2 separate regions of the Homo sapiens genome follow, and region 2 is linked to region 1. Evidence: fine-mapped expression QTL. Tissue or cell type: lung. Region 1 holds a variant in brackets; the other region holds the start of a gene. All regions are shown on one strand. Distances are between the middles of the regions.

What was found. PIP is the estimated chance that this variant, and not a neighbour inherited with it, causes the effect.
Region 2: TBCE starts here. The variant in region 1 is fine-mapped to the expression of TBCE in lung (TOPMed, PIP 0.99).

The regions. Positions count from the first base shown.
Region 1 is chr1:235,432,304-235,436,465 of GRCh38, forward strand. It overlaps TBCE (tubulin folding cofactor E), which reads left to right. Exons shown (of 17, transcript NM_003193.5): 8 at 1,901-1,977; 9 at 3,442-3,537; 10 at 4,083-4,147. It also overlaps the pseudogene RPS21P1. Among named protein-coding and RNA genes, the nearest start is that of TBCE, 67 kb to the left of the region's middle. The variant T/G (reference allele first, on the strand shown) is at 1,634.
Region 2 is chr1:235,365,702-235,369,863 of GRCh38, forward strand. TBCE (tubulin folding cofactor E) reads left to right here and starts at 1,726. Exons shown (of 17, transcript NM_003193.5): 1 at 1,726-1,803. It overlaps LOC124904559 (a long non-coding RNA gene), which reads right to left and starts at 1,719. Exons shown (of 2, transcript XR_007066957.1): 1 at 1,509-1,719; 2 at 652-922. RefSeq lists enhancers at 1,433-2,146, 1,686-2,025.

The sequences.
Region 1 (4,162 bases):
CAAGGGTGTAGAAATACATTCCCAGCCATGTTCACCCAGGAAGTGCCACAGAGGCCACTCAGTGAGAGACAGGTGGGCCCCTTGTGCCCTTAATATGCCCGTGGCCATGGAGCCTCTTTCCTAGGGCCCCTCCTCTGTGAGGCGCTTACTCCCTCTCAAGGTGTAGATGTAGCTGGAAGACAAGAAGGGGCCAGACACTGGCACTGGGGCTCACACCTGCAATCCCAGCGCTTTGGGAGGCTGAGGTGGGAGGATCACTTGAGCCCAGGAGTTTGAGGCTGCAGTGAGCTAGGATTGCACCTTTGCACTCCAGCCTGGGTGACAGAGCAAGACGCATCTCACCCTCCAAATAAACTAGGAAGGGCACACAGAAATTGAAGTGGTGGAGATGGCAGTAAAGTTCCAGTGAGAAAATTTAGAAATAGTTGGTGAGGCTGGTCATGGTGGCTCTCGCCTATAATTCCAGCCAGCACTTTGAGAGGCCCAGGCAGGAGAATCACTTGAGGCCAGGAGTTCAAGACCCACCTAGGCAACATAGAGAGATCCTGTAGATGCTATATATATATTATATATTATTATACATAATTATATAATATATAATAATTTTTTGTAATTTTTTTTTTTGTAAAAAAAAAAAATTAGGCTCATGCGCAGTGTGGTGGCAGCAGGCACGGTCTCGACATGCAGAAAGACGCCAGCAAGTTCGTGGATCTGTGCGTGCTGCAGAAATGCTCCACCAGCAACTGCATCATCAGTGCCAAGGACCACACATCCATGCGGATGAACGTGGCCAAGGCCAGTGAGGTCACGGGCAGGTTTAACAGCCAGTTTAAAACCTGTGCTATCTGCAGGACTGTTTGCAGGATGGGTGAGTCAGATGATTCCATTCTCTAATTGGCCATGGCCAAGGGCGTCATCTCAACTATTTGGTTTTTGAGATGGAGTCTTGCTCTGTTGCCTAGGCTGGAGTGCAGTGGTGTGATATTGGCTCACTGCAACCTCTGCCTCCTGGGCCAAAATGATTCTCCTGCGTCAGCCTCCCAAGTAGCTGGGATTACAGACGTGCACTACCACGCCTGGCTAATTTTTTGTATTTTTAGTAGAGATGGGTTTTCACCACGTTGGCCAGGCTGTTCTCAAACTCCCGACCTCAAGCATTCTGTCTGCCTCAGCCTCCCAAAGTGCTGGGATTACAGGCGTGTGCAACCATACCCGGCCATTTTTGTATTTTTAGTGGTAATGGGTTTCATCATGTTGGCCAGGCTGGTCTCCAACTCCTGACCTCAAGTGATCCACCTGCCTTGGCCTCCCAAAGTGCTGGGATTACAGGCATGAACTCACTGTGCCCGATCTCAAAGAACTTTTGATTGGAGAGAATCATGGATGTAGAATATTTGTCATAAATATATAATGAAAACTTTAAAAAATGTATAATTAAAAAAATAATGAAAGAAGAAATAATTGTTGAGAAATTTATGAAAGGATATGAAAAATTAGCATATCCTTTACAAACCCAGATTGGCATTTAGAATTGAGGAAAGGTGTGTAACATCAATTTACTTATTTTGGTTAAGCAAATTCTATCAAATAATAATATGTGCAGTTAGTATCTCCTGTTCCACCTCGTAGCTGC[T/G]TTACCTAAACCATGCATTGACACGTACCTCCAAGGCCTCAAAGTGCCCACAGTGTGTGCTCCCACAGCATTAAAATGCACCCCCTTAACATTTTATTTATCACCCCCCACCACTATTCCAGGCCTGAAACAGTCTTATGAACTGTCCGTGAGGCACTTGTTTGCTGAAACAGTAACTGAGCTGAATTCTTGTGGTGGTTCCTATGAACACCCGGGAAGAAACAGCCAGCAGAGGCCGCCTGAGCCTGAACCGAGTTTCTCTTCCAGGTGCTGCGGTGTGTCGCGGGGTGCCCAGGCCTGGAGGAACTCTACCTTGAGTCTAACAACATTTTCATTTCCGAAAGGTAACTAGCACTTACTTAAATGCATCTATCCCCATTTAATCATCATTCTGAGTAAATAAATGGTCTCAATTATATCTAACCTTAATTTTTAGAAGGATTTGCAAACAAGAATTAGGAAAAATGCTTATTATTCATTGCCTTCACAAATTAGAATTTCACTAATTGGTTCTAATCAAAGGAAACTCATCAGAATTAAATATTTGTGAAGACATGAGTTATATTAGTTTTGCATCAGTGTATTAACTTGCTGTTTCTTTTTTTTCTTTTTCTTTTTTTGAGACAGAGTCTCACTCTGTCGCCCAGGCTGGAGTGCAGTGGCGATCTTGGCTCACTGTAACCTCCGCCTCCTGAGTTCAAGCGATTCTTCTGCCTCAGCCTCCCGAGTAGCTGGGATTATAGGTGCCTGCCACCATGCCCGGCTAATTTTCTTTATTTTTAGTAGAGACGGGGTTTCACCATCTTTTACGGGGTTTCACCATCTTGGCCAGGCTGGTCTCGAACTCCTGACCTTGTGAGCCACTGTGCCTGGCCAACTTGCTGTTTCTAAATGGAAGTTCTGTAGGATATGCTATAAGGATTAAATAATGTATTTTTCATTAGCATCATCTGTTTAAGGTCATTGTACCAAAGTACATGTAAAACTTTGTTCTCTGAAATATATTGTTGCCTCATCTCCTTTTTAAATTAATAATATTAAATTACTATGTAAAATTAACCTAACTGTGGGAAAATTTACAACAGATTCTGAATTAAAGGATTCAGAATCTTAAAGATTTTCGTTTACAGAAGGGTTTCATTATGTAGGCAAATGCAGGTTTTTTGTTTTGTTTTTTTTTTGAGATAGAGTTTCATTCTTGTCACCCAGGCTAGAGTGCAATGGCACCATCTCGGCTCACTGCAACCTCCACCTCCCTGGTTCAAGTGATTCTCCTGCCTCAGCCTCCCATGTAGCTGGGACTACAGGCACGTGCCACCATGCCTGGCTAATTTTTGTATTTTTAGTAGAGACGGGGTTTCACCATGTTGGCCCGGCTGGTCTTGAACTCCTGACCTCAGATGATCCACCCGCCTCGGCCTCCCGAAGTGCTGGGATTACAGGTGTGAGCCACCGTGCCTGGCCTGCAGGTTTTTTAAATTAAATTTTTTTATTTTGAGATAATCATATATTCACATGAAGTTTTATAAGAAATGATACACAGAGATCACTTGTACCCATGACCCAGGTTCCCCCATTGGTAACAAGTTGCAAAACTATGATATAGGATCACAGGCTAGGTGTGACACTGATACCGGCAGGAATATGTGCATCACCACAGGGACCACTCAGGTTGCCCCTTTACAGTCATATTTACTTGCTTCTTATCCCCAGCCCTCCATCGCACCAAATGCAGGGATTTTAAGGCTGTATCTTTGAAAACAATTAAGAGATAAATTCACGGTGAAAAAATTTTATTTTCCATACAGGCCAACAGATGTTCTCCAGACAGTCAAGTTATTAGATCTTTCCTCTAATCAATTAATTGATGAAAATCAGCTGTATCTGATAGCCCACCTGCCCAGGTAATTTGCCCCTAAATGCCTGATACAATAGTGTTCAGTCAATTCTTAGTGAAGCAGTTTTCATATGCTATGTATGCTTTCTCAATAGAAACGTGGTAACAATGATGGAATTTCTAAATTGAGTAATTCCCTTTGGGAAATTTTCATTTGAATTCATTTAGAAAATTTACTTGTGAACCCTGTATAATGTGGACTATGTCTGTACCAGATAATTTGAAGAATGAATAATTTGACCCTGGTGATAATGCGGAAAGTCTTCATTCATTAAACTCCGGGCAGTAGACCGTGTCTCTTTCCTCTGAGACGCATTTAGCACCTGACATAGCAGTAGGTACTCAAGAACCATTAGGTGACTATGGAGTCATTAGAATACAGGATAAAGAGTTCACTTTGCATGTCCTAAGTTGGACTTTATGGTTTCTAAGTATTTTACATGGGATTAAAAACCCAGGGTGTAGGAAAAAAATTTACAAACCGAGTCTGGTTGATACCCCATAGCATTTTACATTGTTCTGTGTAATCAAATTGTACATTTTGAATTTCAGGTTAGAACAATTAATCCTCTCTGACACTGGAATTTCTTCTCTACATTTTCCGGATGCTGGAATTGGTATATAAGATTAGT
Region 2 (4,162 bases), 67 kb before region 1:
CTCAACGTCCTGAGTAGCTGGGACTACAGGCACCTACCACCACGCCTGGCTAATTTTTGTGTTTTTTTAGAGACAGGGTTTCGCCACATTGCCCAGGCTAGTTTTGAACTCTTGAGCTCAAGTGATCTGCTTGCCTCGGCCTCCCAAAATGCTGGGATTATAGGTGTGAGCCACCGTGCCCTGCTGAGGAGAGTCTTAGTTTGGGATCCATGGATTCCTTTGAGGCCTATTCATGGGCTTCAAAGGATTAATCAGTCCTTGAAATCATACGCAAAATTTGTGTGTAGGTAGATAGCTTTTATCAGATTTCCAATGTGGTTTTTAATCCCCTCTTCCAAAGAAAAAACAATCACTGTAATATCTAGTTTCTAGTTTCAAGGAGTGAACTATCAAAGTATAAAACAGTAGAGACATCCAGCAGGATACTGACTGTTTGTGTCCATTTAATATGACAATTAGAAGGTCACTTCTTGGAAGAGTCATTTGGCTTTGCTCCCTCAATTTCCTTTCCACTTCACCTCACTTCAGTCTGGTTTTGGAATGCTAACACTCACTCTACCCAAACTGCTCTTGTTGTGGAGTCTGTGGTATCCACCAATGGGTTCTTTCTGCCTGCTGCACAAACAAAATTAATTGACAGAAACCATGGCATTGCAGTAAAGAAAGTTTAATTGACGCGAGGCTGGCCATGCCACGTGGGAGACAGAGTTGTTACTCAAATCCATCTCACCAAAGGCTCAGAGGTTAGGGGGTTTTTCAGATAGTTTGACAGGTACGGGGCCAGGGAATGGGGAGTGCTGACTGGTTGGGTCAGAGGTGAAATCATAAGAAGTAGAAGCTGTCCTCTTGCACTGAGTTGGTTCGTGGATCCCCAGGTTGATGAGTCAGGGTGGGGCCATCCACTTGTCAGAAATGCAAAAACCTGAAAAGACATCTCAAAAGGCCAATCTTAGGTTCTACAACAGTGATGTTATCTGCAGGAATGATTGGGGAAGATGCGAATTTGTGACCTGTGGAATAATGGGTGGTAATCATTTAACTACAATTACAACTTAGAAGAATTCAGGACCCTCTCATTCTCCTAACTTGGTGGCCTTTCATTTAGTTTTAAAAGGGCAGTTTTGGGGAAGGGTTATTATCATTTAAACTATAAACTAAATTTCTCCCAAAGTTAGTTTGTCCTGTGCCCAGGAATGAGCAAAGACAGCCAGTCTGTGAGGCTAGAATCAAGATAGGAGTAAACCATGTCAGATTTCTCTTACTGTCAAAATTTTGCAAAGGCGGTTTCAACAGAAATTAACATGTCTAGGATAGTTGCTTTTTCTATTATTTTTTCTATCACTGCATTTACTTTCATTCTGCCTTATGCTTTAACTAGGTAATTTTTTTTTTTTTTTTAGTTTTGGCGGTATCAACACTATATTCTTCTCTTTGACCACCGCATGCTGCCTACGTGGTAGACTCTCAATACGCATGGAACTGAACCTCTTACAGGATTTGTAACTCACTTCTGTGGTATCTAGTAAACTGGAACACGCGCTTTCCCTGGGCTGCTCTGTCATCCCAGGTTTCAGCACTCGGAAATCGCTTGGGCCCCCGCCCAGAGGCGGGGCTTGGGTGGGCTGACCACTCCTCTGGCCTCCAATACTGTCGCTGACATTCTCGTCTATGCTCCAGCAGCCGTACCTCACTCCGGTGGAGGCGGGACTTCCTACAGCACTTCCGGCCAGAGCCTCAAGCTTCGCTGCTGGGCAGTTGGCTGGAGGGGCTGCTGCTGGGAACACCTGGAGTCTCCGCGGGCAGGTGAGCTTCAGAGGTTCGGGGAGCTTTCGGAACGAGCATTCCTGGCCGGTGCGTCACCCTGCAGTGCTCTTGGCCTTTTCTTCCTTTCCTGGAATCTTCCCAGATTGCCAGAGCCGGGCGTTGCCTGCTCCGTGCGCTGGGAGGCGGTCCAGCCGGCTGGGTTGGGGCCACCCTGCGCCTCCTGGAAGGCCTTATTTAGGAGTAGCCGCACGTGATCTCTAGCATTTTAAGCTTCTCTCAGAGAATTGGCATGTCACTTTGGAAGAGGTGAAAATGGTACAGGCGACCAACGACTTTTACAAGGTGTCACCTTAGAGGAACAGCCTCGTCCTTCCGAATCAGTTAACATTGGTGATGACAGAGAAATAACGTTAAATAGGTGGAGAGCACTTAAAGTAACTGTTTGTTCTTTTGAGACAGTCTTGCTCTGTCGCCCAGGCTGGACTGCAGTGGCGCGGATCTCTGATCTCGGCTTACTGCAACCTCCGCCTCCTGGGTTCAAGCGATTCTGCTGCCTCAGCCTCCCGAGTAGCTGGGATTACAGGCGCGTGCCACCACGCTCGGCTAATTTTTGTATTTTTAGTAGAGACAGGGTTTCTCCATGTTGGCCAGGCTGCTCTCGAACTCCTGATCTCAGATGATCCACCCGCCTCGGCCTCCCAAACTGCTGGGATTACAGGCGTGAGCCACCGCGCCCGGCCTAAAGTAACTATTTTTACTTGGTGTTTACTACCAAATGGGGACTGTTCTAAGTTGTGGGTGGATCCAAATGATGGTGTGACAGCCTTATCCTCAGAGAAGCAGTCCTGGCAGGAAGACGGGGTTAACAAATTGCCAAACTGTTAGAGAAAGTTAGTGGAGGTAGAGATGAAGAGAGAAGACTTTTCTTTTCTCTGGCATTAATTTAGCCACGGCCGCTGTGTTTTGATACTTGCTTCAAACGTTTTTCATATTCTTAAGTTTTAACTTTTCTGTATGCTCATATTTTATATACTGTTGTAAACAGCATATCTCTGGGTTTTTTTTTTAATCTAAGTGGACAGCCTGCTTTTTTTTTTTTTTTTTTTTTTTGATATGGAGTCTTGCTCTGTCGCCCAAGGCTGGTGTGCAGTGGCCCAATCTCAGCTCACTGCAACCACGCCTCCCAGGTTCAAGCATATCTCCCACCTCAGCCTCCCGAGTAGTTGGGATGACAGGTGTGTGCCACCATGCCCAGCTAATTTTTTTTTTTTTGTATTTGTAGTAGAGATGGGGTTTCGCCATGTTGGCCAGACTGGTTTTGAAGGCCTGACTTCAGGTGATCCACCTGCTTCAGCCTCCCAAAGTGCTGGGGCTACAGGTGTGAGCCACCGTGCCCAGCCCAGTCTGCCTTTTGACTAGCAGGTTTATTGGATTTACATTCATTGTCACTACTGAAATATTTGTCTAGATGAAAATCTTTGGTATCATCCCTGATTAATCTCTTCCATATATATCAGCAAATCCTATGGACTCTCCACCTTTAAAATCTGTCCACACTCCCAGGCTCTTGTTATCACCTTCACTTGTTCAAGTTACGTTGTCTCGTACTTGAATTACTGCAGTAGTTTCTGCTCTTTCCTCTTTTAGTCTGTTTGCATCACAGTATCTCGGTTGATCCTTTAAAAAAAAATCAGATTTATGTCTTTCCTCTCAAAAATCCTCCAAGGACTACACATTTCACCTGGAGTGAAAGCCAAAGTCGGCCGGGCGTGGTGGCTCATGCCTGTAATCCCAGCACTTTGGGAGGCCGAGGTGGGTGGATCACGAGGTCAAGAGGTCGAGACCATCCTGGCCAACATGGTGAAACCCCGTCTCTACTAAAAATACAAAAATTAGCCGGGCGTGGTGGTGCGTGCCTGTAATCTCAGCTACTCAGGAGGCTGAGGCAGAAGAATCGCTTGAACCCGGGAGACAGAGGATGCAGTGAGCCGAGATCGTGCCACTGCACTCCAGCCTGGCGATAGAGCAAGACTCTGTCTCAAAAAAAACAACAAAAACAAAAAAAACAAAAACTGGCTGGGCGCAGTGGCTCAAGCCTGTAATCCTGGCACTTTGGGAGGCCAAGACTGGTGGATCACCTGAGGTCAAGTGTTCAAGACCAGCCTGGCCAAAGTGGCGAAACCCCGTCTCTACTAAAAAAAAACACAAAAAATTACCCAGGTGTGGTGGTGTGTGTCTGCAATCCCAGCTATTAGGGAGGCTGAGGCAGGAGAATTGCTTGAACCTGGGGGCAGGCGCGGAGGTTGCAGTGAGCCGAGATTGTGCCATTGCACTCCAGTCTGGGCAACAAGGGCAAAACTCTGTCTCAAAAAAAAAAAAAAAGCCGAAGTCTTCAGAG